2 linked regions of the Homo sapiens genome follow. The protein of the gene in region 1 purifies or fractionates together with the protein of each later gene. This does not show direct contact. Each region holds a gene or a part of one and is shown on either strand. Other genes may lie near its edges. The genes, in order: SYCP1 and PSMA8.

Region 1 (3,831 bases):
GGCTCAGTTGGCTGATGGTGTTGTACAAATATATGTTTTTAATTGAATTTTTGGGTCTAATTCTATTATTTACTGAGAGAAGAGTTAAAACTAGTAGGATTTTGGAATTGTTTATTTATCTATTTAATTCTATCAGTGATTGCTTCGTGTGTTTTGAACTTCTGCTATAAACTTCACATTTATATCTAACTACCATATCTTCTTGATGAATTGACCCTTTGATTATAATTAAATGCCCTCAATTTCTGATAATACTTTTTTGTTTTAAAGTCTATTTTAACATATTATTATAGCCACTCCATGTTTCTTATGCTTGTTGTTTGCATGATATATCTTACAACCTACATTTGACTTTATATTTGTACATATGTGCTTATATGTAGCCTGCATATAATTGGGTCTTCTTTCTTTATGCACTCCGACAATCACTGCTAATTGGAGAATTTAGACCATTGATATCTTTAAAAATTGTTGTTTAAGTGTTGATGTGGCTTAGATTAGATTCACCATTTAAAAGTTGTTTTCCGTTTGCTCCTTTGTTTTGTTCCTCTTTTAAACTCTCTGCCTTCTTTTGGGTTATTTGAATATTTTTTGGCATTCCGTTTTAATGTATCTACTGGTATTTTATCTATACTTCTCTGCATTTATTTTTGTGGCTGTTCTAAGGATTACAGCATGTATCCATTACCTTGTCTATATTGAGTTAATATTGTACCACTTCATGTTAAATGTTGAAACTTTTTTTTTTTTTTTTTTAGATGGAGTCTTGCTCTGTTGCCCAGGCTGGAGTGCAGTGGCATGATCTCCGCTCACTGCAAGCTCCGCCTCCTGGGTTCATGCCGTTCTCCTGCCTCAGCCTCCCGAGTAGCTGGGACTACAGGCGCCCGCCATGACGCCTGGCTAATTTTTTGTATTTTTAGTAGAGATGGGGTTTCACCGTGTTAGCCAGGATGGTCTCGATCTCCTGACCTCGTGATCCACCCGCCTCGGCCTCCCTATTTATGTCCTTTTCCCACTTTGTCCTTTATGCTAGAGTTGTCATATATATTACACCTACATGCATTTACATCTTCCAAGACAGTGCTATAATTTTTGCTTTAGTAGTCATATGTTTTTTAAATAACTTGAAGAAAAATGATCTTTTATATTTATTGCAATATTTACCAGTTGTGATATTCTTTATTTTTTCCTGAAGATCCACGTTTACCTCTAATATTGTTCTCCTTCAGCCTAAAGAACTTCCTTTAGTATTTCTTGTAGTGCAGTTTTGCTGCTGACAAATTTTCTTAGTTTTTCTTTTTGAATATATTATTTATTTACTCTTCATTCTGGAAGGATTTTTTTTTTTTTTTGTTATAGGATTGTGGGTTGACAGTTTTGTTTCTTTCAGCACCTTAAAGATGATGTCTTATTGTCTTTGATCCTCCATGTTTTCTAATGAGAGACTCACATGCTTTCAAGATTTTCTCCCTAACTTTGATTTTCAGCAGTATGTAAGTGAAGTTGAATTATTATATTTGAGATTCACTGCACTTCATAAATCTGTAAATTTTTAACTTTCTTCAAATATGGGAAGTTTTGGCCATTTAAATATTTTTCTGCCCTATTTTTGCTGTCTTCTCCTTCTAAGATTACAATTATACATTGATTTGATCTTTTTATATTGTTCCACGGGTTCCTGAGGTGCTATTCATTTTATTTCAATGTTTTTTCTCTGTATTCTTCAGACTATCGATTCTGTTGTTCTGATAGTCAGATTCACTGTCTCTTTCCTTGTAATCTCCATTGTGCTCCCATGAGCATTCAATGAATTTTTTTTTACCAGCTCTAAAATTTCCATTTGTTCTTATTTTCTATTTCTTTCCTTAGATTTTCTATCTTTTTATTCATTTTAAGAGTATTTCCTATACCTGATTGAGCAAAACTGAATTAGCTGCATTAAAGTTCTCATCTGATAAAGTTCTCACATCTTGGTTATACTGGGGTTAGCATATATCTGTTGCCTTTTCCCTTGAGAATGTTGACATTTTACCAGTTCTTTGTATGTTGAATAATTTTGGATTATATTCAGGACATTGTGAAGGTTATATTATGTAGATTCTGTTACATTCTTCTGAATAATGTAAATGTTTTTGTTTTATCTATCAGTTTGCTAGATTCAAAAATAAACTTTATCTCACCTTCTATAAATGGTGCTTCAAATCTTAGTTTAATTCTCTGAGCCTTTGGTGTACTACTTTTGACTCTGTATATGAATGTATGCTTCATGGGTTGTTTTTAAATTTGTGTAGTATTCATACATAGAATCAGGAGATTACTTTCAGTGGTTCTTTGTTCTGTATGATTTCTCCTTTATATTCTGGCAGCTGGTTGTGGGTCCCAGGGCTCCTTTCCCTGGTTCTACCAGGTTCCTCTAGCAAGAGAGATGGTGGGGTTTCTATTGTAGTTTTAGCTGCCTATACCACACTGCTTAGCAGTGACATTTCACCATTGGGACAAAGCTACCAAAACTGACAAACTCACTCCTCTTCCAGCCACTTGTGTTAATTTTTTTTTTACTTGTTAAAATCCTTAGGTTATATATTGTCTCTCTCTCTCTCTCCCCCGCCCTCCCTCCCTCCTTCCTTCTTTCCCTCTCTCTCCCTTGCTGTACACACACACACACACACACACACACACACACACACACACGTTTATATGTATTTATGTATTTTGTCCAGAGTTTATAGAAGTTTTCAGTGGGAGAGTTGGTCTCTGGGCATGAGATTATAGTGACATACTGAAAGCTAAAAGACTGCTTCTATTTTTTGATCCTTCAAATGGAGACATAAAAATCTGACTTCCATAGAGTAGTGTAAAGAATGAAAATATATTTTAAGCATCTAGTGAGGGCTGGTCATACAGAAGTCATCTGAAAGCATGAAACCATGGTTATTGTTATCAATCTGTCTCCACAGTCCTTGATATAATTTAAACACTTTTCATCTTGCATTTGTTTTGGCACAGTAGTCTCATTACTGGCTTTCTTGTTTTTAGGTTCGCCCTACTTAAGCTTTCTTCTGCACTATTGCTAGTGTTATCTTTTAAAATCGCAAATAGGATTATATATTGTTACAGTAACATTTATGATGATTCCACATTGTCTATAGATAAAATTCAAACTCCTTAACTACAATTAGTAGTTTTTATGGTTAATAATATAGGACCTTTTATTGTGAGGCCTTTTATAAAATCATTGTGATGTCATGCTTGGGAAGACAAAGTAAAAAGTGAGTTCATAAATATATGCTGTGTTGGATAGTAGAAGGAATGATGAGAAATTAATCATCTGTAACTAAACAATTAATTATTGTGTTCCAGGGCTGTGTCTACTGAATTGTCTGTCATCATGTTTAGTCTTTGAATTTACTTAATATTGACTAATTTTCTCTTTTTAAAGAATTTTAGCCAGGGGGAAGCTCATAGTTCTTTCCACAGCTCCATTTGGGCAGTTTGATTACTTTCACTATGTGTATGGTTTGGCATTCCTGATTTGTTAATGTTTATAAATAGGGAGAAAAGGAAACACTTTTATATGAAAATAAACAATTTGAGAAGATTGCTGAAGAATTAAAAGGAACAGAACAAGAACTAATTGGTCTTCTCCAAGCCAGAGAGGTTTGTTTAAGGAAACATTTTTATTTTAAATATTTTGTTAATAGAACATAGATTTATGGATTATGGTATAAGTATTTCTTTTGTTAAAGATTTCTTCACAAAATTCCTTTCCAAGCATTTATTATTACATTAATATATTTATGATTGATTTAAAACACATCTAGACAACCCCCA
Region 2 (3,831 bases), on another chromosome or scaffold:
GCGGGAGGATCACTTGAGCCTAGGAGTTTCAGACCAGCCTGGACAACACAGTGAGACCTTGTCTCTACAAATATAATAATTTAAAAATTAGCCTGATGTGGTGGTGTGCTCCTGTGGTCCCAGCTACTTGGGAAGCTGAGGTGGGAGGATCACTTGAACCTGGGAGGTCAAGGCTGCAGTGAGCCATGATTGTGCCACTGTACTCCATCCTGGGCAACAGAGCAAGACCCCATCTCCAAAAAAAAGGTGATCAACATCATTGATCATCAGAGAAATGCAAATCAAAACTACAATAAAATATCATCTCACCCCAGTTAAAATGGCTTATATCTAATAGACAAGCTACAGCAAATGCTGGTGAGGATATGGAGAAAAGGGAACCCTCATACACTGTTGGTGGGAATGTAAATTAGTACAACCACCATGAAGAATAGTTTGGAGATTCCTCAAAAAACATAAAATAAAAGTACATATGGTCCAGCAATCCCACTACTGGGTGTATACCCAAAAGAAAGGAAATCAGTATATTGAAGAAATAGCTGCACTCCCATGTTAATTGCAGAACTGTTCACAATAGCCAAGATTTGGAAGCAACCTTAGGGTCCATCAACAGATGAATGTACGAAGACAATGTGATACTTACACACAATGAAGTACTGTTCTGCCCCCAAAAAAATAATGAGATACTGTCATTTGTAATAACATGGATGGAACTGGAGATCATTATGTTAAATAAGGCAGGCATGGAAAGACAGACATTGCATGTTTTTACTCATTTGTGGAATCTAAAAATCAAAACAATTGAACTCATGGAGATACAGAGTAGAAGGATGGTTACTAGAGGCTGGGAAGGGTAGTGGGGGGCAGGGGCAGGTGGGGATGGTTAATAGGTACAAAAAAATAGAATTTATAAGACCTAGTATTTGATAACACAACAGGGTAACTATAGTCAATAACAATTTAATTGTACATTTTAAGATAACTAAAAGAGTATAATTGGATTTTTTGTAACACAAAGGATAAATGCTTGAGGGGATGGATACCCCATTCTCCATGATGTGGTTATTATGCATCACATGCCTGTATCAAAATATCTCATGTACCCCATAATATATATACCTACTATGTACTCATAAAAATTAAAAATAATTTTTTGAAAAGGCTTCTTGAGGCTGGGCGCAGTGGCTCATGCCTGTAATCCCAGCATTTTGGGAGGCCGAGACAGGCAAATCGATTGAGCCCAGGAGTTTGAGACCAGCCTGGGCAACATGGCGAAACCCCGTCTCTACAAAAAATACAAAAGTTAGCTGGGCATGGTGGTTCACATCTGTAGCCCCAGCTACTCCGGTTGCTGAGGCGGTAGGATGGCTTGAGCCCAGGAGGCAGAGGTTGCAGTGAGCTGTGATCATGCCGCTGTGCTTCAGCTGTAGGCAGCAGAGCAAGACCCGGTCTCAAAAAGGAAAAAGAAAGTGAAAGACACTTTTTCAAAGGAGGAAATTATTTCTTCCCCAAGTAATACCACATCACTTTATTCAGGTTTGTATTGTAATGATCTATTTATATGCCAGTTTTTTTCCACTAAACTGTGGACTCCTTAATAGCAGGTAAGAATTATATTCTTCCACTTTCAGAGCCCATGGAACTCCTAGTAATTGCTTGATGGGTAAATTCATTTCATAAAACGTTCAAATAATATATTTTATGTAGATTATTGACAAATACAGATTTTGTGACACACATCTTTATAGGTGAAATGGAAAGAGTTCTGGAGTTGAAATAAGAATCAGAGACCTAATCTTTAATCCTTCTTTAATCTTTGGCCAAATATAATTTAGCTTTGTGAATCTATGTTTTCTTATATGTAAATTCTAGTGATGGACTAATAGCTAAAATCCTTTACATCTCTAATATCTTTGAAAATTTGCCTTTCCATAAAGTTGATCATTCATTTATCAATTTAATAGATACCTCTTTTCAGTATTAAGATCATTATATTTAGATTTTTGTATATAAATGTATTAACTTCACTGAAGTTAATAATTGCTGTCTTGGCCAGGCACGGTGGCTCAGGCCTGTAATCCCAGCACTTTGGGAGGCTGAGGCGGGCAGATCACTTGAGGTCAGGAGTTCAAGACCAGCCTGGCCAACATGGCAAAACCCTGTCTGTACTGAAAATGCAAATCTCTCTACTAAAAATAACAAAAATCAGTCAGGCGTGGTAGCACACACCTGTAGTCCCAGCTACTGAGGAGACTGAGGTGGGAGAATCGCTTGAACCCGGCAGCAGAGGTTGCAATCACATCACTGCAGTCCAGCCTGGGCGACAGGGTGAGACCCTGTCTGAAAAAAAAAGAAAAAGAAAATGGCAGCCTGGTCTCGAACCCCTGACCTCAACTGATCCACCCACCTCGGCCTCCCAAAGTGCTGGGATTACAGGCCTGAGTCACCAGGTTTGGCCAATAATTGCTGTCTTATAGCCGCAAGCATGTAACCTTGGATCTACTTGTGAACAGTACAACAGAAAATCAAACTACACTGCAAATTCTTAGAAAAATAAAACCTTTTTTGCTTTCTACTTAGACATAAAGTAGCATAAATTATCTTTTCCCATTTCATTTCGCTATTCTATAAACTGATCAAATTATTAAACCCTATCAGAGAATCACACAGTAGGGTGCAGTTGGGAGAGTTAAATAATGAGTCTTTGTTCATGAATAAAATTAAGCCTCGCATTAAAATGTTTTTGGAGTTATATGCACATATAGGATATATAACGCAATATCACCTTTTGTCCTGCTTTCTTTTTTAGCACAGTGATAGTAGAAATGTCAGAGATCTGGTTTTGCCCATAATTGTTATTGCTCTTAGACCTCTTGAAATGCTTCATTGTATATTTGAAGTTACAAAATATAAAGTTGTACATAGAAAGTATAAATTTATTAAATATTGGAATTCTTCATATTGTATTTACATATTATTCGTATAACTGACATTTGATCTTTAAATTTTTTTCTCTTTTCAGATGTTTAGTGCAAAAGAAGTTGAATTATATGTAACTGAAATAGAAAAGGAAAAGGAAGAAGCAGAGAAGAAAAAATCAAAGAAATCTGTCTAATTCTTAGGATGACCACTGGGAGGTCTTAATGTTTTGTTTTATTGTACTGCCTGAGGTTGTTTAGTGAAATTTTAGAGGAAAACAGTTATTTTGCAGCATTACATGCAGTACTTGTGTGATGTTTTGAGAATGCCAGATCTGTGGCTGTCTTCATTCTATTACATAGTCAAACATAGGTTTATGTGAAGATTTTCTTTGAAAGGGGATTTCAGTAATTGTTGAGAGCAGTCATAATTCCACATAAGCCTGAGACTCTATAATTTGTCCAGTGTCTTACTTACCTTCATATATGCAAATATAATTTTAAAAAATTTTTTAATTAAAAAAATTTAATAATTTGGTGATGTTTGAATATTGACTGTCAGTTAAGGACATAGCTATTCCAAATAAACTAAATATAATATTGAGCTGCATTTCTCAAAGAATGACAAAAGCATCCTTATACTGATGAGTTCTTAAAATTTTGTCAGAGCCTTCTTCATTTTACAATATTTTGTTATTTTTATTTTACCTTTTTCATTTTACAATATTTCGTTATTTTTATTTTACCTTTTTCATTTTACAAGTTGCAATATATTGTTTCGTTCATGGAACAAATATAGGCTGAATTCAAACATGCAATTAAAGCATGGGAAGAGCTTCTAAGGGCATCTTAACAGGATGCTACATGAAAATAAGGAAAGAAATTAATACATATCACTTTTAGTTTAGATTTT

Evidence for each region.
Region 2: the proteins of SYCP1 (region 1) and PSMA8 purify together in Homo sapiens (affinity purification with western blotting, with the first as the bait; one study listed by BioGRID). This does not show direct contact.

Annotation. Positions count from the first base shown.
Region 1 is NC_000001.11:114,906,845-114,910,675, forward strand, and holds part of SYCP1 (synaptonemal complex protein 1), read left to right. Parts: intron 1-3,552; coding exon 3,553-3,657; intron 3,658-3,831. UniProt on the Homo sapiens protein: Major component of the transverse filaments of synaptonemal complexes, formed between homologous chromosomes during meiotic prophase. Required for normal assembly of the central element of the synaptonemal complexes.
Region 2 is NC_000018.10:26,189,297-26,193,127, forward strand, and holds part of PSMA8 (proteasome subunit alpha-type 8), read left to right. Parts: intron 1-3,022; coding exon 3,023-3,115; 3' UTR 3,116-3,831. UniProt on the Homo sapiens protein: Component of the spermatoproteasome, a proteasome specifically found in testis that promotes acetylation-dependent degradation of histones, thereby participating actively to the exchange of histones during spermatogenesis.